Regions from separate parts of the Homo sapiens genome. Here region 1 is linked to region 2. The links come from fine-mapping of genetic effects on gene expression. A gene starts in region 2. The other region holds a variant in brackets. All regions are shown on one strand. Distances are from middle to middle.

Evidence for each region.
Region 1: its variant is fine-mapped to the expression of LINC02145 in subcutaneous fat (FUSION, PIP 0.95).

The regions. Positions count from the first base shown.
Region 1 is chr5:6,376,226-6,392,816 of GRCh38, reverse strand. MED10 (mediator complex subunit 10) reads left to right here and starts at 14,270. Exons shown (of 4, transcript NM_032286.3): 1 at 14,270-14,455; 2 at 15,568-15,651. The coding sequence starts at 14,334. RefSeq lists enhancers at 13,816-14,035, 14,326-14,535. The variant G/TG (reference allele first, on the strand shown) is at 13,086.
Region 2 is chr5:6,328,156-6,344,777 of GRCh38, reverse strand. It overlaps LINC02145 (long intergenic non-protein coding RNA 2145), which reads left to right and starts at 7,486. Exons shown (of 2, transcript NR_028351.1): 1 at 7,486-7,628. RefSeq lists an enhancer at 1,232-1,732.

The DNA of each region.
Region 1 (16,591 bases), 48 kb before region 2:
GATTTCTAGCTTTGTGGATGGAGGAGGGGCCGGGAGCCAAGGAATGCAGCAGCTCCCAGAAGCTGGGAAAGGCAGGAAGCCAATTCTCCCCGCAGCCCCCAGAAGGAGTGCAGCTTTGCAAACAGCTTGATTTTAGTCCCATGACACTCACTTCAGAGTTCTCACCTTCAGAATTTATGGACTGAGTGTGTGTTGTTTAAGCCACTGCATTTGCAGTAATTTGCTACAGCAGCAAGAGGAAGCTGGAGAACACAGTTATCCAGGTGTTGTGACACCGAAAAACACCCCCTCACCTTTCCTAATGATGCCTGGGTGAGTGGCCATCCCCGTGAAGAGCCGTTCCGCTCAGTGTTGCAAAGGTAAAGGGTGAGGAAGGATCTGGGCAGCAGGGACAGAATGCCTTTGTTTGGCCATGCTGCTGTTAGAGTACCATAGGGATTTGATGGCCAGGGGACACCTCAGAAGCCTCAATAGGTACAGTATTGGGTTTTCAGGTAAACTAACACTAGAAGAGTTATTTATGCAATCAGCCAATCATTCAGTAACCATGTACCGAGTACCTTCACTGTGCTAATCAATGAAGAACAAAAAGAGAAATGACAGTCCCTATCCTAGAGACACCTCCAAGGGAGACATCCAAACAGATACTGATATGACAACATGACACTTTATATAAGGGTGACTACCAACATTGAGTGCTTGATGGGGGCCAGACACAGCACTCAGTACTTCACTCGCATCACCCCCAAGAACCTGAGAAAACAAATGGCACCCGAGTGGTAGATGTGGGAGCCGTGATGCAAAGCCAGGTGCATTCGTGCAAAGCTAAGATGCTGTAACAGAGACCTCAAATGTCATCACAGTAGCTAACAAATGGGGATGCCATATTCTAAGTGTTTTACATTTATTACTTCATTTGATTCTCACAACAAACCCAGGTGATACGTGGACTCAGTGTCCCCAGTGCAGTGAGGAGAATTCTGGGGCACACGGAAATGAAGTCATTTGCCCAAGGCCATACAGTTATTAAGTGGTAGGGCTAGGATTTGAACTCAAAAGGTGAGCCCCAAGTCCCTGATATACCCATTATGTCATACTATTGATACTATCTTCCTAACTGTCCTAAAACATTGCCTTGTTTTTCTCTCACTCAACTGTTCTGAGATAAGTAATCCATTTAGGTGGAGAATCTCTGCTCCACTGGGCATTCTAAGATCCATGTTCCTTCCAAACCATTGCTCCTCCATCCTCAGGGGCTCTACTGGCTGATACAGTTGCCGCTGGTGACATGTGACTATTTTAATTTTAATTAATTTAAATACATTTAAAGACAATTGAAATTTCAGTTCCTAGTTGCACTAGCCATAGCTCAAGTGTCTAGTGGCTCGCGTGTTGGACAGCACAGATCTCAAAACACTTCTATTATCTCAGAGTGTTCCACTGCTCTGGGGTACTGTCACCTGCCTGGTGGGACCAATCACCAGCACATCAGGGACAGCCTGAAGAAGATGCACCTGATGCCTCATGTTCCCACCCCGAGCAGATACCCATCATTCCTGCTCCCATCCCTTAGTGCAAAGGCCACAGCTCACTTCAGGGAAGCCTGGGTGTGTTAGTCTGTTCTCACACTGCTATAAGGACATACCTGAGACTGGGCAATTTATAAGGGAAAGAGGTTTAATTGACTCGCAGTTCCACAGGTCTGGGGAGGCCTTGGGAAACTTATAATCATGGCAGAAGGGGACACAAATACATCCTTCTTCACAAGACAGCAGGAGAGAGAAGAATGAGAATCGAGTGATGGGGGAAGCCCCTTATAAAACCATCAGATCTCATGAGAACTTACCATCATGAGAATAGCATGGGGAAAACTGCCCCCATGATTCAATTACCTCCCACCGAGTCCCTCTCATGACACGTGGGGATTATGGGAACTACAATCCAAGATGAGAATGGTGGGAAGACACAGCCAAACCATACCAACGGGAAACACAGACAGTGGGTAGCAATGGGTCTGGCTTCAATTCCATTTCTATGGCAGAAGGGCAGAGCAGGTTTCATTGGGATGCAGGCAGTAACCACTAAACGCATTCTGTCTAAAGGTGGAGACGGTTCTCAGCCTCTAGCAGATTCTCTACCTCTGAGGAGGGAACAGGGCCCAGATGTGTCAGAGCTGACCAGGAAGCTATTAATTCTGCCTGAGGCAGTAAGCAAAAGCTTCACCAACATGCTGACATTTATTTCAGATTTCCCCAAGTAAAGCAGAAGGTATGGAAGAAGACTTTAAAGCAGAGAAAAGAAACCAGCAAAGGCAAAGAGGCGGGATTGGTGAGGGTCCCATGAGGCTGTAGGGCACTGGTCAGTGGGAAGGTGGTATCAGATCAGGTGGTAAGGATTTAGAACTTGTTCTGAGGACCAGCGATTCTCAAAGGAGAAATGAGGGCTGCAGAGCAGCTTCCTGGAGGTCGACTCTTTTCACACTACTTGTCTCACCCCTCCGAGAATCCTTTCCCTCTGCCAGGGGCACATGCACCCACTCCTCTCCTCCTGCCTCACCCAGAGAATTGGGGTAATAGAGTGAGTACATGGTCATGGGGATGGGGCTATGCAGAGAGAGGATTTTAACATCCCTGGTGTAGACAGCGGGGTGATGTCAGGAGGTTTTAGGTTGAGGAATGACATCATCAAATACATTTTTGGAAGAAGGAGCCAGTATACAGCACAAAAAGGAAAGCTTGGCTTTGCACATTTTGGGTAGAAACTGATAGAAGGAAGCCACGTTTACCAAATGCCTTCTACATTCCAGGTGCCATGCGAGATGCTCCACACATCAATAGGCACATTTCTTCTATTTCCAGGAGGAGAAATCTGATGTAAGTGAATCCAGCAGGGATCTGTTCACTGGGTGCAGCGAAGTCAAAGACTGATGTTGGGATAGTAGCAAGAGAAAGTGAGGCGTTTATGTAGGGCCCCAAGCAAGGAAAATCAGGCATCCCATGTTCAAGACCCAACTCCCAGATGGCTCATAGGTGAGGGTTTTTACCAACGTGGAGGCAGAGGTTACAAGTAAAGTCATAAATTCAAATATGGAGACTATACGTTGGTTTGACCTAAAAACGTAGGACAACTGGAAGTTGGGGGCCCACAGGTTATAGGTGGATTTAAAGATTTCTGATCTGTGATTGGCTAAGGAGGCAAAGCTTTGTCTAAAAATGTGGGATCAGCAGAAAACAATGTTATTAGGTTGGTGCAAAATTGCACGTTTTGCCACTGAAAGTAACAGCAAAAAAAAAAAAAAAAAAAACCTGCAATTACTTTTGCACCAAACTGATAGCTCTAACTTGTGGGTGTGACGTTCCCAGGCCCCTTAGGAAGAAATTTAGAACAAAGAACAGTGACCAGAGTTTAGTTTTTAGTTTCCCTTAATTTGAGGTCTATGTGTTAGCAAATCTGTTTGGTGGGGGTTCAGGTTTTTGAAAAATAACTCAGGGACATATGTTAAGGTGTTATTTTCAGTTTTTATAGGGAATAACATATCTCTTGACTAACTTTTTTGGCTACTGTTTTAAGCTACTATTATCTTTTTGTTTATTCAGTTATTTTTCAGTGTGAGCTAGGTGCCTGGAATTTTTCCTGAAGGAACTTAAGAGTTTTCTTTATTTCTTCACTGGGCAGGGGGTGACCTGCAGGCCCCTAGGAGGAGTCCCTGCTCCATCTCACTGAAGACCAAGACAATTCTAGAAATGGGCCAAAGTCATATACCAAAGAAGTACTGGGGCTGCGTCCCTTCCTGGCCATACCTGAGCTCCACTTTAGACAGCCAGGGGGACATAAGAAATGCCATTTGGGGTCACTGAGGGCTCAGTGTGGTCATGAGCTCCTTGGTGGGAAAGTACAATGGCTCTAGTTTCTTTTTTTTTTTTTTTTTTTTTTTGAGACGGAGTCTCGCTCTGTCGCCCAGGCTGGAGTGCAGTGGCGGGATCTCGGCTCACTGCAAGCTCCGCCTCCCGGGTTCACGCCATTCTCCTGCCTCAGCCTCCCAAGTAGCTGGGACTACAGGCGCCCGCCACTACGCCCGGCTAATTTTTTGTATTTTTTTAGTAGAGACGGGGTTTCACCGTTTTTTAGCCGGGATGGTCTCGATCTCCTGACCTCGTGATCCGCCCGCCTCGGCCTCCCAAAGTGCTGGGATTACAGGCGTGAGCCACCGCGCCCGGCCCTCTAGTTTCCAACATTGTCATTTATGAATTAAGTAGAATGAATGCTGCATTTATTTATATTGTAAACAAAAATTTATATTGTAAAAACAACCCCCCCCCCAAAAAAACCCACCAAACACTCAACTTTTTAGCTTAATAAATTCAGCGAACTCTATTTCTTATTGCAGAAGCAAAAATTCTCTCATTTGTTTGCTGTGGTAAGAATATGATGCCTGAAGGATCAGATACTCAACTCTACACCCTTTCTTGGCAAAATATTTACCCAAGTTTCAATTTCTTCATGAGAAAATGGGGAGCAATCATACCCAGCCTAGGGAGGATTGTTTTTGATAATTATATTTAATATATGTAAAATACCTAGTACAATCCTTGACTTTGGATAGGTTGTCAATAAATGGCATCATCATCATCATCATCATCATCATCATCATCATCATTACTGTTGCTTATCCTAATGTGGCACCCACAAGAATGCATCTTTCAGATATCTGATGGTAAGGGCAGAATTAACCAAGGGCCCTAATGCTCTCCTTTGAAATCTATTGCACTTTTTGCCTCCATGGGCTGCTCAGCCAATGACTGAGTGAGTGATGCAGGAAGGCTAAGGTTTGTCCATTCCTGGGGACTCTGCTGGTGAGCGATTTTGGTTTGGGGGCTTCTCAGTGGTCTTACCAAACTCTCCTTAGGACTGTACCACAGTCTAAGATGCTTCTAGACTCCCTTTGTTTCCTCCCTCCCTCCCTCCTTCCTTCCCTCCCTCTCTCCCTCCCTTCTTTTGGGATCAGACCTGCATTTTGTTCTGATGGTTCTTCCAGCCATGCTGGTTCCCTTTTTCTGTCACATGTATTTCTTCTAAGAAAGTTCTTGTTTAATCCCATCCTGGGATCTGCTCCTCAGAGGACGTGGACTAACGAAACTACAGCCACCTTCTAGAAAGTGAAGGAGGTGAGCCCAGTTCTCTTGTCTTGCGTATTAATAGCCAGGTATTTGTTCAAAGTTGTGCAGATGTTGGTCCTGTCTCCTCTGAGCTTCCATCCTCCATAATGAAGAATTTTCATATATTCTTACTTAGTTTTCTGAAAAAGCGCTTTCTTTTTGCTTTTTTCAGATGCTTTCTGCTGTACAGTCTCCTGGTTATCTGTCTTTCTTGATCAGAACCGGAGCAGGTGTTCCAGGCCTGCGTGCACCACGATTTTCTGCAAGGTAAGACTTTGTTTTCTGGGTCATCCACAATGAGAAGAGCATATGTGAGAAGAGAAATTGAGCATAGCTCATTTCTCTTTGGAGTGTTTAAGACAAACTTAGACTTCAACTGAAAGTCATTAATTTTTACAAAACGCTATGAGATAACAGGGCTTACACCGTGTGCCGAAAGACCCAGGAGGGTGAAGTTGCTATGCAGCCTAGAAAAGTTTGTATTTCTATGCTTGTGTGTATAATCTGCTAAGGAGTTAGATGTCTTACCTTATCCCTATTTCTGTAATGCTGTCCTGCCCTCTCTTTTGAGCTTGTGACAATTTGTAAAAAAAAAAAAACAACAAAACAACAACAACAACAACAAAAAAACAAAGCTGATAGTGAAAGCCAACTGCATACTTCCATTTGCTGATTGGATCACATGCCAGTCTGTATTAGTGTAATCTCATCTTTTTGCTTTTAAAAATTTGATCACATACATCACACAGAATTCCAGGTAGAGCTGCACATTGCTGCAAATATTGCATAGAAAGGAAAACAGAAGAGAAGAGAAATCTTACGGCTTCTCAATGCTTGTTAGTGTAAAAAAAGATACAATTTCTATTTTTTTATTGCACAAGTCAGGCACTCTCATTGGTATGTGAATCTAATAGAATGAACGGGAAACCTAATTTATTTGAACATTCATGTGTCAATGTAGCTCTTGAGGGAAAATAATGTCAGCATTTTCTATCAGATGAAATTATTCTGTCTCCTAATTCTGTATTTAGGGATACTTTTTTGGCTTTCTTTTGACCACATATGGTTCAAATTATAGTAGCTTCCTTTAGGGTTATGAAGAATAAATGAGACAGTCTATAATCTATAAAATATGTTCCAAAATGGCAGATATTGTCATCAGTATGATCATGACCATCACCATCATCACCGTCATCATCATCACCATCATCATCAAACAACAGAGTTGCAAATCTTCCCTTCTGCTAGAACTACTAATGTGCTGAAAATCTTCAAAGTGAGAAGCAGAAACCAGCTGTTCCTTCCTCTGGGTAGGAGAGCTGCATTTTTTTTTTTTAAACTTAAGCTGAATCTGGCTCTTAGAATAAATTAGAATGAATGGCAAAACATGTTCCAAATGATACCACTAAGGGCTTTGGATGCTGATGGAGCGATAATAGTGTGAATGAAAAAAAAAAAAAGGTAAAGAAGAAGGGAAAAAACAGCCTCCAGATTTCAAGGTCACCAAGTATCAGAAGTAAGGAAATTTCCTAGGGGCAGCTCATGTCGACTTCGGAGGGAAAACAAGGCGACAAAACGTATAGTCAGCAATGCTCTGTAGGCTTTCTGCACACGGCTTCCTACCAGGCCGACCTTCTGACTTACTGGAATTTTCCAACCTAATTTCATTTACATTTGGGGACTGGAGTGTTGAAATGTTAAAACGTTTCTTATAAACAAGCCAACAGTATTATGTTGCTAAATAAAGGGAAAGCAGCCATTACTTAGCTGTTTGAGTAAAAGGAAGAATTTCAATGTAGGTTTTTTGTTTGTTTATCTTTTTGTTTATTTATTTTTTTTTTTGAGACGGAGTCTCGCTCTGTCTCCAGGCTGGAGTGCAGTGGCGCGATCTCGGCTCACTGCAACCTCCGCCTCTTGGGTTCAAGCGATTCTCCTGCTTCAGCCTCTTAAGTAGCTGGAATTACAGGCACCTGCCACCACACCCAGCTAATTTTTGCATTTTTAGTAGAGACGGGGGTTTCACCATGTTGGCCAGGATGGTCTTGATCTCTTGACCTCGTGATCTGCCTACCTCGGACTCCCAAAATGCTGGGATTACAGGCGTGAGCCACCGTGCCCGGTCTCAATGTAGGTTTAAGTGGGCTTGGGATGCTTTTTGTTTCAGCAGGGAACAATCTTCACTGGAGTAGTCATTGTGGACAACTGGGAGATGAGTGCTTTAGAAACTGTAGCTGATGGTTAATCACAGGGACTAACACCATCATTATGCTCGTTATGGCCTGGTCCTGAATTAAACATCCCGCGATCACAATACAGACAACGAGTGCTGCTGGTCTTGAGCAGAGAAGGAGGGGTGTTACAGTTGAGTTATATCCCCTCAAAAAAGATATGTTGGAGTCCTGACCTCCAGCGCCTCCAAACGCAACCTGATTTGGAGATGGCATCTTCACAGAGGTAATTCAGTGAAAAACTCCAGTCATCAGGGTGGGCTCTAATCCAACCCGACTGGCGTCCTCATGAAAAGGGGAAATTTTGGCCACAGAGACACACACAGGGACAACACCGCGTGAAGCTGGAGGTGGAGAGGAGGGATGCTTCTGCCAGCCAAGGAACAGCAACCACTGCCAGCAACCACCAGCAGCCGGGAGAGAGGCCTAGAACACGACAGTGAAGCTTCCGGCTGTGTCCAGGACTTTAACAAACATGTTCCTGAAGTTTCATTATTGAGTCTAATGCTTTCTCTATGTTCTTAGTAGATAAAACATCTTTCATCAGGTTTAGAAAGTTCTTTTCTATTCTTAGTTTTCTCAAAGGTTTCTTTTTAATTTAATTTAATGTAATTTTATTTTATTGAGATGGAGTCTCGCTCCGTCGCCAGGCTGGAGTGCAGTGGTGCGATCTTGGCTCCTGCAGCCTCCGCCTCCCAGGTTCAAGGGATTCTCCTGCCTCAGCCTCCCGAGTAGCTGGGACTACAGGTGCGTGCCTCCACGCCCAGCTAATTTTTGTATTTTTAGTAGAGACGGGGTTTCACTATGTTGGCCAGGATGGTCTTGATCTGTTGACCTCGTGATCTGCCCGCCTCAGCCTCCCAAAGTGCTGGGAATACAAATGTAAGCCATCATGCCCAGCCTCTTTTTTATTTTTAAATCATGATTTGGGTTCAATTTTATTAATATCCAGTGTCTACTTAAAAAATCTACCTGAGGTATTTTATCTCCTTTAATCCTTAACAGACTGTTATAATAATGGATTTTATGATATTTCATAATTCATGCAATCCTAGGAAAAGCACAATGGATCATAACTTTTTTCCCAATGTGATGGGTGACAGGTTGTATTTTTCAAAAACAGCTTTGTGAAAGGAAAATAAATCTTGGGACCCCAAAATCACTAAGCCAAAAGGAAAAGCCAAGTTGGGAACTGCTTAGGGCGAACCTGCCTCCCATTCTGTTCCTAAAAAACGTAGCTACTAAGATTAAAAAGCGACATAACTCCCTCACAAGGAATTTCTCTGTGGACAAAGGACAGACAGAATTCAAAGTTGCCCTCTGCTCACTGAGATAAATGCATATCTGATTGCCTCCTTTGGAAAGGCTAATCAGGAACTCAAAAGAATGCAACGATTCGTCTCTCACCTACCTATGACCTGGAAACTGCCTCCCTGCTTCTAGTTGCCCTGCCTTTCCGGGTGGAACCACTGTACATACATATATTGACTGATGTCTCACGTCTCCCTAAAATGTATAAAACCAAGCTGTGCCCTTGGGCCCATGTTGTCAGGACCTCCTGAGGCTGTGTGACAGGCAGGTGTCTTTAACTTTGGCAAATAAACTTCCTAAATTGACTGAGACCTGTCTGTCTCAGATACTTGGGGTTCACGGCTTCAACAAGTTCTCATCTCACCTGCTCCTCTATCAATGTGACTTCTTACTTCTTCCACCGGGAAGACAGGTTATGTTCCCTCCCTGGGGATCTAAATGTGCCCTGGCTGTCGGGGGACTTCCCAGGCAAGGTCATAAGAGGTGGTGCTGCTTTCACCTGCTTCTCCTGAGCTCTGTGCTCTTGGCACCCTGCCACCATCAGGGAGGAAGCTCCCAAATCCCAGGGACACACCCACACGGGGGGGATGTGTGGTCGCCAGCCCACAGCCCCGCTGAATAAGCCATTGTGAAAGCAGGTCCTTCAGCCTCCAGTGAAGCCACCCCAGCCCATGTGACATGGAGCAGAGAGAAGCTGTGAACGCCATGCACAGGCCACAATGCAGATTTGTGGGTAAAATGAAGGACTGAGGTTGTTTTACGCCACTAAGTTTTGGCATGGTTTGCTATACAGCAATAGATGCCTGATGCATGACAACTGATCTAATTCTGATAATATCTTACTTAAGACTTTTGTATCTACTTTCATAAGGAAGATTGACCTATATTTTCTTGTATTGTCCTTGATGATTTTCATATAAAAGTTATACTGCTCTTTCAAAATGAGCTGGGATGTATTTCTTCTTTTTCTAGTCTCTGAATGTATCTGGGTAAGTTTGAAATTATTTGTTCTTTAATGTTTGATTTTTAAACAATTAGTATAAAAAACTGTCCGAGCTTATGTCTCTCCTATCTTTGAAAGAGATTTTTGCCTACTGGCCAGTTTATTGAAAGACTAGGAACTATTCTAATTGTTTATTTTTCTTAAGTTAATTTCTGGTAGTTTCCTAGAAAATTGTTTATATCTTCTAAGCTTTCAAAATTATGAACATATAAGTTTTACCCTCACCCTCACTCATTTATAATACTGTATATTTTTCTCTTTTAGCACCTTTCTTTTCTTCTTCTCTGATGAGACTTGCCAGAAGTATATATATTTGACTCATCTTTTCAACAATCAACTTTTCTTCATTTTTATCTTTCCAGCTTCGAATGCAGCTAGACAGAAAACTAATGCAATAGTTCTCATTTTCATCAGTGTCTGTCTTTACTTTTGTCACCCCTTTTTATGTATTTTTTGGTGCCTGTGATTTCCCTTTTGATTCTTTTTATCCTACTCTTTGAGTTGAAACTCCAGTTTATTTTTTCCAGGCTGTTTTCCCTCAAATTATTACCTCAGGAGTAAAGCAGAAGTTTGACAGGGAATTCTTGTCATTTAATTCCAAATGTTTTATAATTTTCCTTTTAAATAGGATGTCCACATAACGTATCAACCAAACTGGGACATGTTTGACAGTGAGTGGAAGAGTGCTATTAATAATCACACGAAGACAACAGACATAATTGGGTCTTGCCCATTCTCAGATGTATGTAAACTCATGAATTATTTAGAGTGTGTTTTGATTTTCGAACGTGTATGTATGTGTAGAAAATGAATAAATTCATAGATTTCTACTGGAATTACGAGGTCAGAAAATCTGGTCTATGTGATAGGATCTGAGTTTGCTGAAACTTTCTTTGTGGTCTAGGGAATGGTCAAGTTTTTGTAAGTATTTGAAATGTGCTTGGAAACAATCTATTCTTCAGGGGTCACTGTTTTTCAGAGATCACAATTCTTAATATATTACTTAAGTCTTCCATATTCTTCATATGCTTTTTGGCCTACTTGATTTATTGTTTTCTGATAGAGGTACTCCAAATCCTCTGTAATAATTATGGATTTTGAATTTTTCCTCATATTTTGTCAATTTTTGTGCTAGATAATATGGGACTATGTTGTCAGTTGCTTATAGGTGAATAGTATTCTATCTTTAATGAGTCTTCTCTTTACCATTAAAAGCATCTTTTTAATGTTTCTTTACTAACTTTTATATGCATTAACAACTTTCTTTTGGTTGCCTGCCATATATTATTCTATCCTCCCTCTTTATTTTCAACCTGTCTATAAGTTTGTTTTAGGTGTACCTTTGAAAAGCAACATAGCTAGATTAAAACAACAAAACAAAACACTTCCAATTGGATTCTAATCTGAGAGTCTACCCTAACAGTTAAATCTGTTAACATTTAACTGTTAGGATAGACTAACAGTTAAATGTTAAATTAAATAATTAATTAATTAATTAAATTAATTAAATGTTAAATCTGTTAACATTTACTGTGTTCACTAACGTATGTTTTTAGTGGGGAAGGCACACATTTAATGACAGGGAACACAGTTCATGATACACTTTTTAATTTTATTTTTAATTAACAAATAATAATTGTCTATTTTTATGGGGTACAGATGTTAGAGGCATTTGAAGCAGAGCAACTCCATCTTGAATAGGAGCTGGGTAAAATAAGGCTGAAACAAACCTACTGGGCTGCATTCCCAGATGGTTAGGCATTCTAAGTCACAAGATGAGATAGGAGGTCGGCACCAAATACAGGTCATAAACACCTCACTGATAAAACAGTTTGCTGTAAAGAAGCCAGCTAAACCCCACCAAAACCAAGATGGCAACGAGAGTTCTCACTGCTATACTCCCACCACTGCCCTGACAGTTTCCAAATGCCATGACCTGTTAGGAAGTTACCCTAAATGGTCTAAAACGGGGAGGCATAAATAAGCCACCACTTGCTTAGCATACAATCAAGAAATAACCATAACAGCAAGTAACCAGTAGCCCTCGGGCCGCTCTGCCTATGGAGTAGCCATTCTTTATTCCTTTATTTTACTAATACACTTGCTTTTACTTTACTATATGGACTCACCCTGAATTCCTTCTTTCACAAGATCCAAGAACTCTCTCGGGGTCTGGACTGGGACCTCTTTCTGGAAACACAGATATCTCTTTGACATAGTGATTTCAATTCCTTTGAGTATTGTGAAAGGAAAATAAATTTTGGGGCCCCCAAATCACTAAGCTAAAGGGAAAAGTCATGCTGGAAAATGCTCAGGGACAACCTGCCTCCCATTCTATTCAAAGTGATCCCTTTGCTCACTGAGATAGGTGCATATCTGATTGCCTCCTTTGGAAAGGCAAATCAGAAACTCAAAATAATGTAACTATTTGTCTTTCACCTACCAGTGACCTGGAAGCCCCCTCCCTGCTTTGAGTTTTCCCGCCTTTCTGGACAGAACCAGTGTATACCTTACACTTACATATTGATTTATGTCTCATGTTTCCCTAAAATGTATAAAACCAAGCTGTGCCCTGACCACCTTGGGCTCATGTCATCAGGACCTCCTGAGGCCGTGTCATGAGTGTGTGTCTTCAACCTTGGCAAAATAAACTTTCTAAATTAACTGAGAACTGTCTCAGATATTCAGGGTTCACAGTATATACTCAGAAGTAGGACTGCTGGATCATATGGTAATTCTGTTTTTAGAGTTTTGGGAAACTTCCATTCTATTTTCCATAAAGGCTGCACTAATTTACATTCCCATCAACAGTGTACAAGGGTTCCCTTTCCTCCACATTTTCACCCACACCCATTGTCTTTGGTCTTTTTGATTATAGCCCTTCTAACAGTGTAAGGTGACATCTCATTATGCTTTTAATTTGTATTTCCCTGATGATATGTGATGCTGAGCATTTTTGCTGGTCATTTTTATGTCTTCTTTTGAGAAGTATCTGTTCAGGTCCTTTGCCCATTTATAAATTTCTTCTTTTGCTTTTTTGCTGTTGAGTCGTGTGCCTTTAATTTTTGCACTTTACGTTGTGAGTTTTATTTTCCATGCTTGTTCTTTGCTTCTTTATTCTCTTCTTTTCTTGCCTTCTATTGAGTTGATTGTGTTTTCTTTATTCCCTTCCCCCTGTCTACTAGTTTGGGAATTATATATACTAGCAAAGAGATACCCTTAAATTTTTAAAATAAATACTTACCAAAGCCTAAGTTCCATCAATTATCTATCTTTCTTACTTATGAAATTGAGAAAGGCCGTTCACTCCATGTCGCTACCTCTACCTAATAACTTAAAATTTTTTATTTGTCTAATATTTTATTTCCACCTTTTTTTTTTTTTTTT[G/TG]AGTCTTGCTCTGTTGCCCAGGCTGGAGTGCAGTGGCATGATCTCGGCTTACTGCAACCTCTGCCTCCTGGGTTCAAGCAATTCTCCTGTCTCAGCCTCCCAAGTAGCTGGGACTACAGGCGCACACCACCATGTCTGACTAATTTTTGTATTTTTAGTAGAGACAGGGTTTCTCCATATTGGTCAGGTCGGTCTCGAACTCCTCACCTCAGGTAATCCACCTGCCTTGGCCTTCCAAAGTTCTGGGATTACAGGCCTGAGCCACCACGCCCAGCCTCCATCTTGTTTTATAATTCCCTAAAGTTAATTGTTGTTAAATCAGGAGAGAAGTATTTTATGTAACATTTCTGTTTATCAGCCCAGCCCACCAACTGGAGTGCCCTGATTCCATAAGTTTGGCAAGTCACTTACCTTCTCTGGCTTTCCATTTCTGGTCACAGCTGGGAGAGGCTCTGAAGATCATCTAGCAAAGGAGCTCCCTCACTTTGCCTGTTTCTAGGCACTGAAAAGTACAGGCCACAAATATATTCAGTAAAATAAATCACTTGAGAAATTCAAACAGGCTAGAGGAGATATCCGCTATCATAGGAGATCGGGCAGAAAAGTTTCTTAAACATAAGAGTGAAATGACCTAAACTGAATTTCAATGAGATAAACAGCAGTTTACTAAGACAGGGCAACCCCACAGGGTGCTGTTTGGTCAGAATTGGCCCGAGGAGGTGAGACCCTGACCTACGAAGGCAGCAGGTGTCCGGGAAGCATGGTTAGCAGCAAGAGCTAGGGGAGGTGGCCGCCGATTACATAGAAGAAAGGAGGCAGGCAGGCGCTGATCCCAGGGGTTCTGGTAGAGGGGCAGGGAAACTACCGTTATTGGTCCTTCATGCAAACTTTAGGATTTTCATCCATGTGTGTATTGCTTGAAGATGCTGCATTGCAGAAAGTCTTCAACTTCTCCCATGACCGAGGCAGGTCTGATGAGAGTGCAAACAGTTAGTACTCGCCCAGCTGCGCGCCGAGGCCTCCTCCAGAATCCAGACCGCATCCCCGAAAGCCCGCCCTGCCCCGCACTTAGGCCCCGCCCCAACACGCCCGTCCCGATAACGAGGCTCCGCCCCCAAGAGCTCGCCCGCGCTCCCCCAGAGGAAACGGAAGTCGTATCTGTCCGGACGGAAGCAGGAAGCGGGAGCGTAGGGCCACGCCTGCGGCGCTGCTGGTTGAGGCTGTGTGGGTCGGGGACGGGCCGAGGCGATGGCGGAGAAGTTTGACCACCTAGAGGAGCACCTGGAGAAGTTCGTGGAGAACATTCGGCAGCTCGGCATCATCGTCAGTGACTTCCAGCCCAGCAGCCAGGCCGGGCTCAACCAAAAGCTGTGAGTGGCGGCCCGAGGCTGCCGGGGTCTCCCCAGGGCCTGGCCGGGAAGCGTGTGCTAGGGGAGCGGGGATCTAGGGAGCCCGAGCCGAGCCTGACCGCTACTCGTGCCCCGCCAGCCCTCTGGTCTGGTCCCGGAGCCCGGGGCGCCTTTCCTGGCTGTGTTCAGAGGGCGGGGCCCGCGCTCCAGCCTGTTGCCAAGAGCCAACCTCTTTGAGGCCCCTTTGGAGACGTCGTCATGGCCAGATGATATACTTTACGTTTCCCTATCAAGGGAATCATGCTTTCTCTTCTAGCGTCTCCCCTCTCATGTGTAACCCCCTCCCAGCCTTTTCCTCCTGGAGCCCTTCTGGGAATTCAGTCCCTGTCTCCAGAGGGGAGGCAGGCTCCACAGTGAGTGCACGCCCTAAACTAGGCCTCAGAAGGTGAGGCTCCGAAGCCACCTGCCGCATAGGCCTGACAGTGGAGGAAATAGCGGGGAGGTGGTGCTGAGAAAGGTTGCAGAACGTTTATTATTATTATTTCTTGGCAACAGCCTTGTGCTGCCCATGTTGCTAGGCCCTGGGTTGGAGAAAAGGCAAATGCAAGTACAGCACTTTCGAGAAGGGCTTTATATGTGGCACGGACATAGAAAATGTTGCACTCGAGGTTCCATACCTAGTGCTGTGGGAATAGCCAGACCAGCCTGATGCTGTAGGAAGGCTCCAGAGAGGAGAGGAAGCTAAACCAGACAGTATGGCTTTCTTTCCCTCAGACTTTGAGTATAGTCCGCTGCCTCATGTGTTCGCTGAAACCGCACACACAGTCATATGCACAGTCAGGTAATTGTTTTTGAGAGAAGGTTCATATTTTTCATCAGGTTCCCTCTCCATCCCCCTTACTGGCAATTTCTAGTTGAGAAGGAAAGTAACAAATATTTAAGGGTATTTTGTAACTCTAACGGTGTCCTAGGAATCCTGTAGCTAACCAAAGAGGTCAGAACCGTGTGTAACCCGCATAGCTGTGAGGAGAACGAACTTGCGTGGAGCCCCGGTTGGCTGGGTAGCTCTGTGGGTGGTGCTTATGCTGTCAAGCGAAATTAACCAGATGCCTGTGTGTTTGCCTTTCCCCCAGGAATTTTATTGTTACTGGCTTACAGGATATTGACAAGTGCAGACAGCAGCTTCATGATATTACTGTACCGTTAGAAGTTTTTGAGTAAGTAACATTCTTGATATTAGTCTTGGGTATAAATCTTGTTCAGTTATGGTGTGGTATCGTGACTTCTTCATCACTGGCATTCGAGTGCCTGCTGTGTGGTAGGCACAGCCTGGGTGCTGGGGATGTGCCAGTGGAAAAAAAAATAGACAAAAATACAAAAATACCTGCCCTTATGGAACTTCCGTTCTAATGGCATTACAAAACGAAAAAAAAGAATATCCTTAATATTCTATTGTGGAAAAAAAGTTACATGTAAATAAAAGCTTATTAAATATATGAAATACATCATAGGTCCTCAAAGCCCTGCTTAGGCTAAAGAACAGCCACAAAACTTTCTTTTTTCCTTAAGAGGTGAAAAGTCCTATGAGGGCTATATTGTAAATTTTTAAAAAATGGCAGCCAGAAGCACCTGAAAAGCAAGCTGGTCTGATGTTCCCAAACTGCCCGTGGAGTGCTAGTTCTGAGAGGTGAAAATATCTGCTCTGTCGAAGGAGGAAAGAAAGGGTTCTTATTCCAAGTATGTTTGGGGAGGCTGCTCACTGTTTTCTGTGCGAGAGTTGTGTGCACCTATGTTAGTAATAGTCCTGAGAACACATACAGGAATGAGCTTTTAGATTTTTAAAATCCAGGTTTTCTTGCATTGATTTGGTCACATCTCTGATTTCACACATGAAGGACCTGATAAGTAACTGCAATAGGTTGTTTACCTAGTAAGTGTCAGAGTTAAGACGAAACCCCCGGACTCATACTTTCTTGACCAGTGCAAAGCAGCCTCTCCCTGATGGTGCTGGCTTGGAACAGCAAGAACATTCTAGTATTTCTTGCAGCAAAACTGCAAATGTAAATCACTAGATTTCGTTAAGCAGTAAAGGGAAAGAGTTATGGCTGTTTTCCATCCCAAAAGGTCAGAGATACAAGTTCTAGCTATAGTGCAGCA
Region 2 (16,622 bases):
TGTGTGGAATGCAGATTATCAACTTGCTTCATGCTGACCATGCAAAGGAGAGGTGAGGCTATAGTGCATATGCAAAACCAAGTGAAAACTAAGGCAATTATGTCGATAATTCACGAAGAAAAGCACACTTTTTGGGGGGCTTAATTATCTGGATTTATCCAGTGGGCGTTTTTGAAAAAGCAATTATCCAGACAACAGCCGGAGGGTTCCCTTTCACGTTGAGTGGGTCACAGGGCGCCTGAGTCAGGAGCTTTGTGTTCTGGGGTTGGCCCAGAAGCCCAGTCATTGTTGGATTCTGGGAAAACCAAGTGGCTTCCCCGTGCCGTAGTTTTTCTTTCTGTTATTGAATGAGGCCAAGATCTTCACAGAGCTGGTTCTTGTTGCGTAATCAACCTCCTGTTTTTTGTCTTGTCTCACTTGCTAATTCTCTTAATTCCAACTTTTAGCATTCATTTTATGCTGAGTTTTTCTCTAATTGATTCTTTGGAGCTTTTTATTTCCAACGAGGTTGCAAACTGTGGTGCCAACATCCATTCCCTGCTTTCTTGGTGGACCTGCCCACCTCCTGGAACCCAGAAGTGGACCCTACAGGGCCCAAACCCACAAAGTACTGATGGCTAGGAGTGGTGACGTCACCACAGACCCCGTGCCCCAGTGCAGTGACTCTCCCCTGGCTGCTGGCTTCTGCTGCCTGCAAACACCCAAGGCGACGGCCCCTGGGTGTGGCTCCAGCATCCATGTTTCACTGAGAGAGCCCCTGATGACTGTGGTGGGGCTGACAGTCATGGCAGGGCTTCCAAAGACACCTGTGTCATGAGCTCTGTAGACATCACGTCCCCACTCAAAAAGGTTCTGATTTGAGAACATTTTGGATTTCAAATTTTTGGATTAGGGATGCTCAACCTGTATTGACTTCAAGTGTTAAGGCACCAAATAGAAGATCCATTTTTTGAATCAACCTTAAACGGGATTTCTTTTTTAAGCAGCGATTCACAAAACTGCCTCAATCTATGAGAGACTGTAAAGCTAAAAGAAAACTGCAGAGCCTCAGGGCTAGGCGGCCTGGCAGGCACACACTGACAGTGCGCTATCTTGAATGTGACCTGGTCTTGGAGATTCCATCAGAATAAATAGAGCCACGGCCCCATGCCAGTCTGAGCACTCCATTTAATTATTCAGGGGAAACTCGGATATACTCAGGCCTTGAAATGAGGCAGAAGCTTGCAAGGTTTCAGACTGTGTTCAAACTTCCCCTGCTAGCCAGCCGTGTTGGAAGCATCAAGCATCGAAGCCTCGTGAATCAGCATTTGGAGAGGGAGATCAGCCGGGCTAAATTTGGAGATTTTTGACTCAGCCATCAGTGAAATTCAGCAGTTCCTCCTGAAGCTTTTGGTGACCTTTTGGTTTCATCCAAGCTCAAATACCAAAGGCACTGTGAAAGTGGATAGAATTGTAAACCCTTGCGTGAAGATGGTGCAGCTGGCGTTCTGAGATGAGTTCATCCACCACAGGACTAAACACATCTCTGTGCCTCTAGCTTTTCCTGTGAAGGAATGGAAATGGGGTGGTGGGGAGGGGCAAGAGGTGGAGGCAAACAAAGAGGAGGTGGCAAGGAGATGCCCCTCGCCATGCCTGGCGCAGAACGCAGGAGGCACCCGTCTGGACCTCACCAGTGCCGGCGCCCCGTAGCTGTCTCCCACCAGCTCTCCACGGAGCTCAGAAGGGCCCAAGTCAATGCATCCTCCAACACATCCTCGTGTATTGCCAACTGAGCCTTTGAGCGAGTGTTCAGCTGACACTAAGTGCTTTTTGCTCTCAGCACAATTATGTACTTCTGAATAACACTCGAAGCATCCTTTGAATGTGAAAACGGGTTAGATCAAAACATCAAAGTGCACCTCTGTCCCTAATGATCCTTTTTAATGCATCTGTGGTTTCTAACATTAAGAGAAAATGTGAATTTAGCTGTGTGCTTTTATGTGTCTACTCTGTGACTTGTTTATCCAGGCTATACTTAGAAACAATAGAAGAACATAAAATATGAATACAGTATCCATATTAAAGTATAATAAACATTCTGAAGTATGTGTTAAGCTGTCAGGAGCTCTGCCGGACTGGAAGATGTAAGCTGGGGCTGGGTTCTTCATTGTGTGTGGACTGAAAGCCTCGCTAATGATGCCACTCTCTTCCAGCCCTATTTCAATATGTTTTAGCTACAGTACTTTAGCGTCAAGATCTTTTCCTCAAGCCTTTCTGGAATGAATCATTTCTTCTATTACTTATTGGTAAATATCTTGTTTTTGTTGTTTTTAAATTACAGAATAACTACATGCTCATCATAAATAAATGATGTAGAAATTAGTAACTAAAATAATAATTTCTATAGACTCACCTCGCTTATAATTTAACATTAATCTGTCCAGAATGAATATAAGTATATTCATACACAAAATGTATTGTCTGTAATCTTAACCCATTTATGGCTAGTGTTCCATTATTGGAATGCTAAGCTTGTGGGAGTTATTTGTATCCTACTGCTCAAGGTCATCGCTGTGGTCTGATTTTTCACAAAAAAATTTGCAACCTCCAGCATATAAATGGGCTAATGACATAATGCAAAGGATATTATCCAGCATGTCTTGCTTTCCTCACTTAATGTATATTTAACAACTTTTCATGAATGCCTATTTTTTGGTAGAAAAAGCTAAGTTACAAAATAAGATAAATTAAAAATACACGGCCAGGTGCAGTGGCTCACGCCTGTAATCTCAGCACTTTGGGAGGCAGAGGTGAATGGACAACGAGGTCAGGAGTTCGAGACCAGCCTGGCCAACATGATGAAACCCGTCTCTACTAAAAATACAAAAATTAGTTGGGCTTGGTGGTGGGTGCCTGTAATCCCAGCTACTTAAGTGGCTGAGGAAGGGGAATTGCTTGAACCTCAGGAGTGGAGGTTGCAGTGAGTCAAGACTGTGCCACTGCACTCCAGCTGGGGTGAAAGAGTGAGACTCCATCTGAAAAAACAAAACAAAACAAACAAACAAAAAACCCCCAACATTATGATATAGCTATTCATTGGGCAGCCATTAAAATTCTAGTTATGAAGATTATATCATTACATGGGAAATATGGTAGATGGTGAATGAAAATGATATAAAAGTATTAATATGATATAACATTATTAATAACCAAATATCCAGTTAGGGTTTTCAAACAAAATCTGTTCCTTTTCTTGGTTAAAGTGGCATTATCTTGATGAAAAAGAAAAAAAAATCTTCTGCTTTTTTGGCAAAGTTTCCCTTGGCTGTCTTTAGAGTGTGCCATCCATGTGGATGTCATTTCTCCTGATGATCCGGGTATGATGATGGGGGCTCTCTTCCCTACTTGGAGCTCCTAGGCTCACTCCCCCACTGACCTCACTCAGCTGAGTTGTTAATGGGTTTCATCCTGGCATAATCCCATTTCTATTTTTAAGCTCTTTAGACCCTCTTGGGTAAAACTAGTTTTAACTCCAAATGCACTTTCTTTTTGAATAAATGTGAATTAAGCAATTTCAGGGAACAAAATGTTTGACAATGAACAGGTTGAGTGTAAAGGATATGAATGTTTATTTGGGATATTAAATTCCAAATACAAATAATTGTATTATTCTCCAAATGCAAGGAGTATGAAAGTTGTGTCTTGTATCTTATCCTTCATAGCATGGGAGGTGTTGCTATTTGCTAAGTGTATTCTAAAATGAAATCTTAATTTCCCCCTTCCCACCCCACTTGCTGCAACTCAAATTAGCAAGTTGCACCATCATCCTCACTGTTGCTTAGGCCAAAAATCTACGTGTTCTTGTGGTAGTTAGCTTCTGCCGCAGTAACAGGTAGTCCAGACATCTCTGTAGCTTGCAACTGCAAATGTTTGTTTCTCACTCTGGGGTCTGAGGCTGGCTGCAGCTTCTAAGCTGCTCCTCTTGGCTGGACTCCTTTGGGCCACCCTTCTTCTCACCCAGGACCCAGGCTGGCAGAGAAGTTACACCCTGGGGCATGCTTTCCTCAGGGTGCAAGGTAGAAGTCAGGAAGGACAGCAGAAGCAAATGATGCCTTTTAAAGCCTCTGCTTGTATCTGGCACACTGTCACTTTATGTGCATCCCATTGCTTGGAACAAATCATGTGGTCAAGTCCAAAGTGAAGGTGCAAGGACATGCACTGTCCCCTCATATAAACCTTCACATTATTCTGCAAGTTACTTATGGCTGAGCAACTCCCACGTGCACATGTAAATAAACCTTGCCTTTTCTCCTGTTAATCTATCTTCAGTTAATTTGCAGGCCCCCAAGCATGGGACCCAAGTGGTAGAGGTGAAATTTTTTCTCCTAACAATAGCATATTTTGGCCTAGTGATTCATGATAACTGTAAGTTATTAACAATACAGTAGAATCATTCCAAGTTATACTTAACATTTAAAACTTTCATCAATGATTATGAATGATGACTCATCCCAGGGACACAATGCTTAACACCACCTGGCTTGAATACTGACTGATCCACTTACTAGCAGCTTAACAATACAATTTTATTTTTAAAAATTTATTCATTTATTTATTTTTTTTAGACAGGGTCTTGCTCTGTTGCGCAGGCTGGAGTGTAGTAGTGATATCTTGGCTTATTACAGCCTCTACTTCCTGGGCTCAAGCAATCCTCCCACCTCAGCCCCTTGAGTAGCCGGGACCACAGGCATACGCCACCACACACGTCTGATTTTTGTACTTTTTGTAGAGACAAGGGTTTCACTGTGTTGCACAGGCTGGTTTCAGACCCCTGAACTCAAGTAATCCACCTGCCTTGGCCTCCCAAAGTGCTGGGATTACAGGCATGAACCACCACACCGGCTCACAATTTTATTGTTTTACAGTCCTGAGGTTGGAAGCCCGGCACTGTCCCCCTGGGTTAAAGTGGAGGTGTCGATAGGGCGGGTCCCTTCTGTAGCTCCAGGGGAATATCTGGTCCTTGCCTTTCCCAGCTTCTAGAGGCTCCTGCTTTCCTCGGCTAGTGGCTTGTGGACCCTTCTGTCTTCAGAGCTGGCAGTGTGCGTTTCTCTGTGCCTTTCTCCATAGTCATATCTTCCTCTGACCCTGACCCTCTTTTCACTTTTGAGGAGTTTTGTGATTACACTGAGGACATGAAGACCATCCAGGACAAGTGCCCTCTTTCAAGGCCTGCTGATTCCATCTGCAACCTCAGTGTCGCCTTGCCACGTTACCTAACATAGGCACAGGTCTGGAGATCAGGACTTGGATGTTTTTAGTTTTTTTTTGGAAGTACTGTTCTGCCTTCCACACTCTCTGCAGCTTTTCTGGTGGATGCTGCATCAGAGGTAAGGAGATGCCGCCTGCACCACCCTCCACTGCCCACCCACACACCAAGCTGTAAGGTTGGGTTAAGTTTCTGATGCAACTAGGCAATGTGACCCCACGAAAGGGGCAGAGGGGCACCTGTCACACATGGGCACAGGCTGTGGGGCCAGCTGGCTGGGCTCACATCCTGGCTGCACCTCTCATGAGCTCTGTAAGCTCCCTGGGCCTCCCTTTCCTCACCTGTGAAATTGTCACAGCATGCGCACCTGCCCTCTGTGCCATGTGGGACTTGGGGGAACATCTCTAAAGCCCTTTGCCAAAGGCCAGTCAGGTAGCAAATGCTGTGTGAGGGTTTGGGACATAAACACACACTGGCAGCATGCCTGAGCGAAGCTTCCGTGGCCTTCTGAGTGTCTGGCCAGGTCATTCTGGGAGCTGTCAAATACACCTGGCTGTCTTCCTTTTCTGGTCACATGGTTCTGGACCCTTTGTCCTTTGTTGGGGCCATTGGCTTGTTCTGGAAGCTGTGCTGAGAGCACAAGTGATGTCGAACACCCCAGGTCAGAGTGTTACCATGCCAGAAGGCCCCAAACACAGATGCTCACCCCAAACACATTTTGCTGTTGGCTTCCTGGCCTAGATTCCAGCCAGGGATCCTCCTAAGGAACCTCTCTGGTCTCCTCCCGAGCTTGCAAAGAGAGGTCTGAAGAAAGCTTGCGATTGCTGAGCATGGGGGCTGGAGCACTCAGCGCCTGTCGCTCACATCTTATTTGAATTTCAGAAAAACAGGAAAAGTAAATGCATGAGATTTTTCTATTCAATTTCAAAGCCTTTTCCCAAAAGTGACTTTTGATAACTGTCATTAAAAGGAAATAGACACAGTATAAAAAAAAGCAAAAATCTTATAATGTAAAAATTACTTGATTTCCTCTGCTTTGCCACTGGTTTAATAAAAAAAAAAAAGCTCCTTTTCTACTTAAAGCTGGCATGATCATTGAATTCATAGACTTATGTCGCTGCTGGTCTTAGTGCTTAATATATACAGTGACTCATTCTACTTAATGGCATCAACAACAGATGCAGAGAAAATGCTTCACAAGCCCAAAGATTGCAGTTGGAAAACCCCGTGCAGTGGGAACAATTCTTTACTAGCCCTAATTGAGGGCAGCTACTCTTTGTGCTTGCCTGTGACAGTTTTTTTTTTCTCTCTCTTTTCCCTCCTCTCCTTACGTGTCCACCCAGATTCTGCAACCCATAGATGGTGGTCTGTGCAGACCAGCAGCCAGAGTCTGCCTTTGGCCTCTGATGCTGTTGTCCTCAACATATTTTCTCCTTCTGCACCCCTGCCCACAACTCCTCTGTGCTCCCCCTCCTCAGGGCTACTTCCTACCTGAGGGAAGATCAACCAGAGGGGGCTGGTGATCAGGACCCAGGGCAAGGGCTCCAGGGAGAGTGAGCTCACATTTGCTGGGAACCTGGGAGCACACGGTGCTGGGGAACCTGCCATCCCCCAACTCAAGTGTGAACGCAGAGCTGGATTTCAGCATCACTCAGGCCCTTTGTAATATTTATTTTGTGCATTTCTTTTTTTTTTTTTTTTGAGATGGAGTCTCACTCTGTTGCCCAGGCTGGAGTTCAATGGCATGATCTCCGCTCACTGCAACCTCCGCCTCCCTGGTTCAAGTGATTCTCCTTGCCTCAGCCTCCTGAGTAGCTGGGATTACAGGCGTGCACCACCATGCCTGGCTTATTTTTGTATTTTTAGTAGAGACGGGGTTTCACCATATTGGCCAGGCTGGTCTCGAATTCCTGACATCAAGTGATCCACCTGCCTCGGCTTCCCATAGTGTTGGGATTACAGGCAGGAGCCACTGTGCCCAGCCTATTATGTGCATTTTAAGACAATATTTTATAAAAGGATTAGGAACTTTTTCAGGCGGTTGAAGAGAGCTCTATTAGAACAAAAAAGGTTGAGAATTCCTGGTGGAGATAAAGTGCAGGGAGAGAGAAAAGTTAGAGGACACGCTCCCTGTCCTAGGACTTTGGGGTGGCAGGGCCCTGAGGCTCTGAGAGCAGCCCAGACTTTGCCCTTATTCTCTGTGTTTCAGGGCCTCGCTACCTTTCCAAGGCAACATCGTTCTTGGAGCACCTGCTGAGGTGCTCTCTGCTGGGGGCCGTAAGTGAGCATCGAAAAAGCTGTAAAAAGTATCCCTGCTGCTCTCCAGGGACTCACAGCATGGACGGCACCTGCATTGAGAGAAGACGGCAATGGTATCGTGATGGTGAGTCTGTTGCCGCTGTATAGAGAAATGGGGAGGGAGAACTCAATTGCAACTTGGGAAGAAGATCATCTGGGAGGAGGTGGAGCCTTTCTGTCTTGAAGGTTGGGTCTACCTCCAGGTGTGAAGGAAGGACATTTCATATACAGGGGAAAGAGGTTTAAAGTATGGAGCTGGTGTGTGTGTGTGTGTGTGTGTGTATGTATGTGTATTTGCACCTGGAAGCATGAGTGTGTGTGCACGTGTGTGCTGGCATCTGGGTCTGTGGTCACAGATGTTTGCACATGTGTGCATGTACCTCTTTGTGTGTGCATGTACCTCTTTGTGTGTGCATGTGTGTGTGGCTTATTTGTGAAACAAAACCAAAAGCCAGATGAGGAAACTTTATGGGAAGCGAAGTCTGAAGACAGATGGGGCCCAGGCTGCAGACATCTGGAGGGCCAGGCTGTGAGGGCAGGGCTTTGGCTGTGTGCGGGGCAGTGGGAAGCCTAGTGGGGTAGGAAGGGCCACTTTGAGATGGTGCAGTGGTGACAGGAGAACACGATGACTGAGGCCAAGAGCTCAGTTAATATTTCAAGTGGGATGTTGTGAGGCCTGAAATAAGGCTGACATGGAGTGGGTGGGGAGGAGGGATCTGCATCATGGGACCCCCTACTCTGGAAGTTGCTTGGCAGCTGCCCATCAATCATTGAATAGACATCTGTTGAGTTTCCTGCTTCCTGCCCTGCACTGTGCTAAGTAACAGAGGTACAGAGCATCTCAGTCACCTCCATGGTACTCAGACCCCCTCCCAATGCGGTCACACATTGCTAACAACAGTGCTGCCAAAGGAACAGCTGAGCACTATGTGTGCGGGTGGTGCTAACTCTTGCATGTGGGCTGTGCCAGGTGTGTGCCCAGCGCTTCCTCAGGAGGCATTAAGGAGCAAGCTTCCAGATACCCGCTTCTCAGCCCAGCTCTGGCTGTTGAGCTGCTTCCCCCTGTGGGATGCTGCAGCTTCCTAACTGCTGCAGTTTTCAAAGTGTGCAAATCTGATCTAGAGAAGTAAGGCCACTAGCTCCAGATGGGCCCACAGCTGTTGGGTTCAAAGGGCTTCAACGAGCCACGATTATTATCTGTGGTCTTGATAATAAGATCATTATCTTATTCTGTGTTCCTGTAATAACGACGTGTTTGTAAATGTTGACCCTGCAAGGTGACAGGTAGATAAAAATGCCTATGGTTCTGATAAATAGTCATTGGATATTTATGTCATCCAAGGGTGGTGGCTTTGGAGTGTGGAAGGTAATAATAAGACAATAATCTCGTGATAATAGTCTGAGATGAATTATATCTTTAATTATGCTTAAAATAACTTTTAAAGAATAAGTAAGTGAATAAATAAGCAATGTGACAAATAAACAACTGGTGTCAACAACTCTAGAAGTTTGGGGAAAATAAGTTTCTAAAATTCCTTGACCCTCCTTCCATCAAGAGATGGGGTCTCTGTCCCCCTTTGAATCTGGGCTCCATATTTCTTGGCCAATACCTCTTTCCCCTGTATATGAAATGTCCTTCCTTCACACCTGGAGGTAGACCCAACCTTCAAGACAGAAAGGCTTCACCTCCTCCCAGATGATATCCTTAGAGAATGGAACTTCGTGTCTGATGACTGAAGTGAGCTTAGGCCTCCCTGGCCAGCTACCAGGGCCTTCCTATGTGCTGGCACTGGGAGGTCTGTGTCCTGAGCTCGCCTGGCCCTCAGGCTGGGCACACACCGCACACCAGTGAGCAGCAGCCATGTGGTGCTGGCAGCTTGGTGGGCACAGCAGGCATGGCCACGAATCTAATGCCTGACAATGACAGGTGTTGGAGCATGTGTCTTAAGCAAGCTGGACAAGGTGTGCATCAGCCAGCAGAAGGGAGACAAGGATGAGCCTGCTGCCCATCTACACTCAGCTCCTGTCTTTGTCTTCCTCAGCCAGTGGTGAGGTGATCTATAGTGGTTCTGGGACAGTGTATTATGGCAGAATCAGGTCCTGGGAGGTGAGCGTGGCTTCCTGCCATGAGCTACCACAGCTCAGATGCCTAAATATTTAGTGCACATTCTGTTCATCTTCCTATAGACTGGGCATTCAGAGCACAAAATGCTGTTGCAATTCTTCCTCCCATAGGAGGGCATCTTGAATGTGCCAGGGCTGGTTTCCAGCCTCTCCCATCCTGCTAATGGGTGCACGCTTTCCATGAATTGCTGTGTGATGTTCACACGGAGGTACGGTGTCAAGGGGGTTTGTCCAATCTGTAAAGGGAGTGGGTAGGTTGAATGCAGCATTCTCCAAAGGGTAACCTCATGAATTCCAGGGCCTGGATGGAAATGGCAGCTACCAGGTGGAAAGGCCGTGTGGACTGACTGGTTTGGAAAACCCTGAGCTTAATGCAGGACTGAACTCTAGTGTCTCAGATGCTACAGAAATTCAAGACAAGATCAAGTTCTTAGCTTCTCTTTGGCTTCTCTGTGGTTCTCCTAGTTGCTGTTGGGGGCTCCTGCTCCTTTCTTTCCACCCCATGCAGGTATGGGCGCTGCTTCTCTTCTGCTGAGGGATTCTCCTACACTAGGAAAGGTTCCTCCATCTGCCCCTTCATCAAAAATATTCTTCCTTCTATCTCATTGCCTTAGAGTCTGCCTCTATCAACCAATTACTCCTGAGACTATGAGCTGTCACTCACCATTGTGAAGAGGGGGCTTCAGTATCTCCATGCCTGTTCCTTTCTTTCTCAAGTCCTCCCATGTATGCTACTGAAAATCTGCATCCTGAAGATTCACTTTTTTCTTAGAAGTCTGGTCTCTAGAGTAGGAGCTGGCCACTTTTCCTGGAAGGGGCCAGAGAGTAAATATTTGCCAGCCATGCGGTCCTGTTGCAGCTACTCAGCTCTGCTATTGAAATGTGAAAGCAGCCACAGAAGATGGGTCAGTGAGTGGAAGTGGCCACATTTGGCCCATGGGGAATGGTTTGCCCACCCCTGACCTAGATAGAATGTATCACGGGTCCCCTTGGAGCACTTGTCATTTGCCAAATTATTGTCTTCCCTCCAGCCAGTTCCACCCATAGAACTTAAGTTACCCTTAATTTCAACCAAGGAGTGGAACCTGACCATGAATCCATGCTCCAATGCCTAAGGCTTTGACTCTTGGCTGGCTGGGCAGAGCCAGTGAGTGGAAACAGATGGGGAGAAGAATTGATGCTGTTACTCTACCACTGAGGGCTGTCTGTCTGTGAATGAGGGGTGAGTACCCTGACACTGGGGGTCACCAAGAAATGGCTTTGGGTTACTTTGTTGTGGAAATTACAGGTAGGCTTTGATGGGCTCTGAAGGAAATTTCAGAGTCTGACCTTTAAGCTGCTTCTGATTGAGATTCAGTACCTGGCTTCTCTCCTCCTGTCTTCTATCCTCCCGCTCCCGCTGCTGGGCATGTGGTTGCTGCAGCTTGCAGTGTCCCGTGCTAGCATGCCTTATCCAATTTCCTCTGCACAGTTCAAATATAATAGAAACAGATGCCTGCTAGAAAGATGAATTGGAACTAGGACTATGTCATTGAGTTATTGAATTGTTTTGATGGCTTCCACAGGCTGATGCAGTCACACAGGGCAGCTACAGCTTCAGTTTTGTCTGGCTGTTTATCAGCTTTGGAGTGAGTTGTAACAGAATTCCTTCCTGCACTGTGGACTGCTCCTCAGCTGTGAGAGCCCTGCCACCATCCAGATCCCCAGCAAATGTGATATGTGAGGCTGGCTGGGTGGATGTACCCTGGACACAAAGCTCTTTTCTTGTTTTCCTCCCGCTCACCCAGCTGGAAGCCTTGTCGTGCTATAGTTGCTCTTTTAGCACATCTAGGTATCCCAGGTTGTGGACATCAATAGATCAGATCCAATAGGCTGCAGCTGTCTGTAGAGGGATGTTGGGAAGTATGCAGGTCTGAGTTTTTATCCTACTTGCAAGTACACACCTCAGCTGGCCCCAGTTTCCACAACACTCATGGCTCAGAGACAAAGGCTTTTATTAAAGCTGCATTTCAGTTCTCTTTGAACTGAAGTCCCATGAGCAGGAGGCGGACAGGCCAAGATACTATTTTTGTGCAAAGTTTTCTCAATCTAGGCACCATGTACATTTTGGGTCAGAATTATCTGTTGTGGCAGTGTGTGTGTGAGGGGGTGCTCTTCTGTGCATTGTAGGATATTTGGCAACATCCCTGGCCTCTACTCAATGGCTATTGTTTTCACAACATCTACAGCCAATATGAACTGCTGCTCTATGGTATGTACAAACGTGTGCACTATTTAAACACTGTTGAGAAAAAGGACCTCCTTGGAACAAAGGCAGATGAGTACCTTTCCTGGGTGGCACTGGACACAACGATGCTTGGCCTCTGGTCTGTGGCCCAGAGGTAGACAGTAGGCAGCCACATGAGCTGGACATCCATCCCCAAACATGGGACATTTCTTTGCCATTATCAAAGAGGGGAAGGCCACTTGGTAGACTCATTTTTTCATGTGATTAAGGCCTACTCACTAGTACACTACTAAGTCATTAGGGACCAATAAAATTTGTCATTTAAATCAGAGATGCACTCAATGACAACATACCAAATGCTGAAAATCAACCATCAGCTACATGTTACCTTCACAGGATAAATTTCTAGAATAAAAGAATAAACTTGAATTTTTTTAAAAAATGTGATCATTATATTTTCTGATGGTGGAGTGTAAGTATGATAGATTGCTTCTGTGATCATCCTAGTGTGCATGCTAGTAATGCAAAATGCTTGCCTCCTTCCCACTGGTAGGGTTTGAGCATGGCCAGTGTGAGGAGGTGTTAATGTAGTTCTCGTGGTGAAGGTAGTTGGGTGGCCCTACTACTGAAGTTAATGCTGCCAGCATTATATTTTGTGATAATAAATGCAAATTTAGACCTCAACTGGTTAAAATAATTTTAATACATAAAACATTAGGAGATTTTCACTCCAAGCCATATCTGTAATACTTACATGATTTTGACAATCAATATTCAGATATTGACAATAAATCCAAGTAACATACTTTGTCCACATTATTGGAATTTTTATGCTGATTGGATATGATGGCAGTCTCTGGACCATGTGAGTGCTGAACACTCACAAGTTTAGTGATCCAGCGATGACACTGATACAGGTACGTGTCCAGTTTCCTTCTGACGGCCTAATATGAATCAAATGTCAGACTTTACCCAAATACTGAGGCTTCTGCCTAGTTTATTCAGGACTAATTAAAGTTTCTTTAAAATGTCTGCTCAGCATGGTGGTTCACACCTGCAATCCCAATGACCTGGGAGGCCAAGATAGGAGAATCACTTGAGGCTAGGGTTTGAGACCAGCCTGGGCAACATAGTGAGATTCTGTCTCTAAAAAATAAAAAAAAAATTAGCCAGGTATGGTGGTGCCTATATAGGTGGTACCTCCTATAGTCCCAGCGACTCAGGAGGCTGAGGCAGAGGGATCCATTGAGCCCAGAAGTTGTCAGCTGTAGTGAGCTATGATTGTGCCACTGCACTCCAGCCTGGGCAATAGAGTGAGACCCCATCTCAAAAACAAACAAATAAATAAATAAATAAATTTGTTCTCCTGAGAAGTCTGACATCCCCCTGGGCACCATGGTCAGGATCCTACTGCAGAAGAATTAACCAAGGTGGATGCTGCTTGTATTAGCTTGTTTTCCCATGGCTATAAAGAACTACCTGAGACAATAATTTATGAAGCAAAGAGGTTTAATTGACACACAGCTTTGCAGGCTGTACAGAAAGCATGGTGGGTGAGGCCTCAGGAAGCTTACAATCATGGTGGAAGGTGAAAAGAAAGGAGTCACATCTTACATGGCTGTAACAGGAAGAAAAGAGCAAAGCAGGAGGTGCTACATACTTTTAAACAAACAACTCTCATGAGAACTTACTACCATGAGAACAGCAAGAGGGAGATCTGCCCCCGTAATCCAATCACCTCCCACCAGGCCCTTCCTCCAACATTGGGGATTACAATTCAAGATGAGATTTGGGTTGGTTCACAGAGCTGAACCCCATCATTCTGTCCCTGGCCCCTCCCAAATCTCATGTCCTTCTTACATTTCAAAATACAATCATGCCTTCCCAACAGTTTCTCAAAGTCTTAGCTCATTCCAGCATTAACTCAAAAATCCAAGTCCAAAGTCTCATCTGAGACAAGGCAAACCCTTCTGCCTATGAGCCTCTTAAATCAAAAACAAGTTAGTTGCTTCCAAGATACAATGGAAAATGGGGGTACAGGCATTGGATAAATGTTCACATTGCAAATGTGAGAAACTGGCCAAAACAAAGAGGCTACAGGCCCCATGCAAGTCTGAAACCCAGCAGGGCAGTCATTAAATCTCAGAGCTCCAAAATAATCTCCTTTGACTCCATGTCTTATACCCAGGCCACACTGATGCAAGGGGTGGGCTCTCAAGGCCTTGGGAAGCTCTGCTCCTGTGGCTTTGCAGGGTACAGCACCCAAGGCTTCTTTTATGGGCTGGTGTTGAGTGCCTGTGCTTTTCCAAGGGCACATGCAAGCTGTCAATCTACCATTCTGGGGTCTGGAGGACAGTGGCCCTTTTTTCACAGCTCCACTAGGCAGTACCCCAGTGGGGACTCTGTGTGAGGGCTTCAACCCCACATTTCCCCTTCACACTGTCCTAGTAGGGGTTCTCCATGAGGGCTCTGCCCCTGCAGCAGACTTCTGGCTGGACAACCAGGTATTTCCATACATCCTCTGGAATCTAGGTGGAGGTTCCCAAGCCTCAATTCTTGCCCTCTGCACACCTGGAGGCTTAATGCCATGTGAAAGCCTTTGTGGCTTCTTGATTGCACCCTTTGGAGCAGAGCAGCACCTCTGAAACATATCTGAGGCCCTTTTAGCCACCGCTGGAGCTGGAGCAGCTGGGATGCAGGGAGCAGTGTCCTGAGGTTGTGCAGGGGAGCAGAGCCCTGGGTCTGGCCCATGAAACCATTCTTCCCTCCTAGGCCTCTGGGCCTGTGATGGGAGGGGCTGTGTGAAGGTCTCTGAAGTGCCTTCCAGTTATTTTCCCCATTGTCTTGGCTATTAACATTAGGCTCCACTTTACTTATGCAAATTTCTGCAGATGACTTGAATTCCTCCTCCAAAATGGGTTTTTCTTTTCTACCATGTAGTCAGGCTGCAAATCTGTAATACTATATGATTTTGAATATCAATATTCAAATACTGGCAATAAATTCAAGTGACATGGTTTATCCACATTGTTGGAAACTTTTATGCTCTGCTTCCCTTTTAAATGTAAGTTTCAGTTTCAGATTATTTCTTTGCTCATGAGTACAAGCTTAGGCTGTTAGAAGCAGCCAGGCCACATCTTGAGTGCTTTGCTGCTTAGAAATTTCTTATGCCAGTTACACTAAATCATCGCTGTCAAGTTCAGAGTTCCACAGATCCCTAGAGTAGGGGCACAACACTGCCAGTCTGTTTGTTAAAGCATACCAAGAGTGACCTATATTCCAGTTCCCAATAAGTTCCTCATCTCCATCTGAGACCACCTCAGCCTGGACTTTATTGTCCATATCACTGTCAGCATTTTGGTCACAACCATTCAACAAGTCTTTAGGAAGTTCCCAATGTTCCCTCATCTTCTTCTTATAAGCCCTTCAGAATGTTCCAACCTCTGCCCATTACCCAGTTCCAAAGCTGCATCCACATTTTCAGGTAACTTTATAGCAATGTCCCACTTCTTGGTACCAATTTTCTGTATTAGTCTGTTCTTGCATTCCTATAAAGAACTACCTGAGACTAGGTAATTTATAAAGAAAAGAGTTTTAATTGACTGAGTTCCACAGGTTGTAGAGGTAGCATGGCTGGGGAGGCCTCAGGATGTAACTCCTTCCTCTTCGCCTGCCACCTTTCAATCATGGTGGAAGGTGAAGAGGAAGGAGTTACATCTTACATGACTGGATCAGAGGAAGAGAACGAAGAGGGAGGTGCTACACTCTTTTAAACAACCAGATCTTGTGAGAACTTATTCACTATCATGAGAACAGCAAGGGGGAGATCTGCTTCCATGATCAAATCACCTCCCGCTAGGCCCCTCCTCCAACACTAGGGATTACAATTCAACCTGAGATTTGGGTGGAGGCACAAAGCCAAACCATATTGCTGCATTCTTTCATGTTTCTTAGGCTGTTCTATATTTTTATTGGCTGTTCTTCTGAAATTTAATGATAAACTGCTATTGATTCAGCTTCAGACTTACTAATATAGTTTCTCTAATAATTTTTGTTAATCCTTCAGTGTGTATTGTCGCATGAACTATGATTTGACTATGATTCACTCACACCCCTACCACACAAATACACCACTGAAGTTTGTTTATATACAGTTCCACCACCCCAAATTTGCTTTTACAGTGACAATTCACTTGTGTCATACTTATTGCATCCTTGTGCTATTACAAGTTGTCTTGGCTTATCTGGGGTTCTAACAAGCCCACATAAACTATTTGTACCTTGCTCTAGGTTCCCCAGAGCAAACTTTGCGGCAAGGTACAAATAGTTTATGCGAGAGGTGATCCCAGTGAAGGAGTCAGAGAGTGGGATGCTGGGGAATTTATCCATGGGTTCTCATCTCCCACATGTGGTGGGTTGCCCCGGAGGGTATTGATTTTTCAGGTTGTGTTTGTGTGTAGCTTAGCAGCCTTCTGCTGCTTTGGAATGCAGAGAGACAAGTGGCCCCTGCCTGACTTGGAATTCCTTGCAGAGGTGTATGGAGCTGTCCGACACTGCAGTGCTGAAGTTGGTTGAGCTAGGAGGATGTGGCATGTTATCCATCCTAAGGACCTACTACACAAGTGTAATACAACTACTGGGTTATTTTTCAGGTAATAGGGCACAGTTTTAGAGTACAATGAAAAGTCTTGTGCAGACATAACTTTTTGTCATTTCTCTTATTGATAT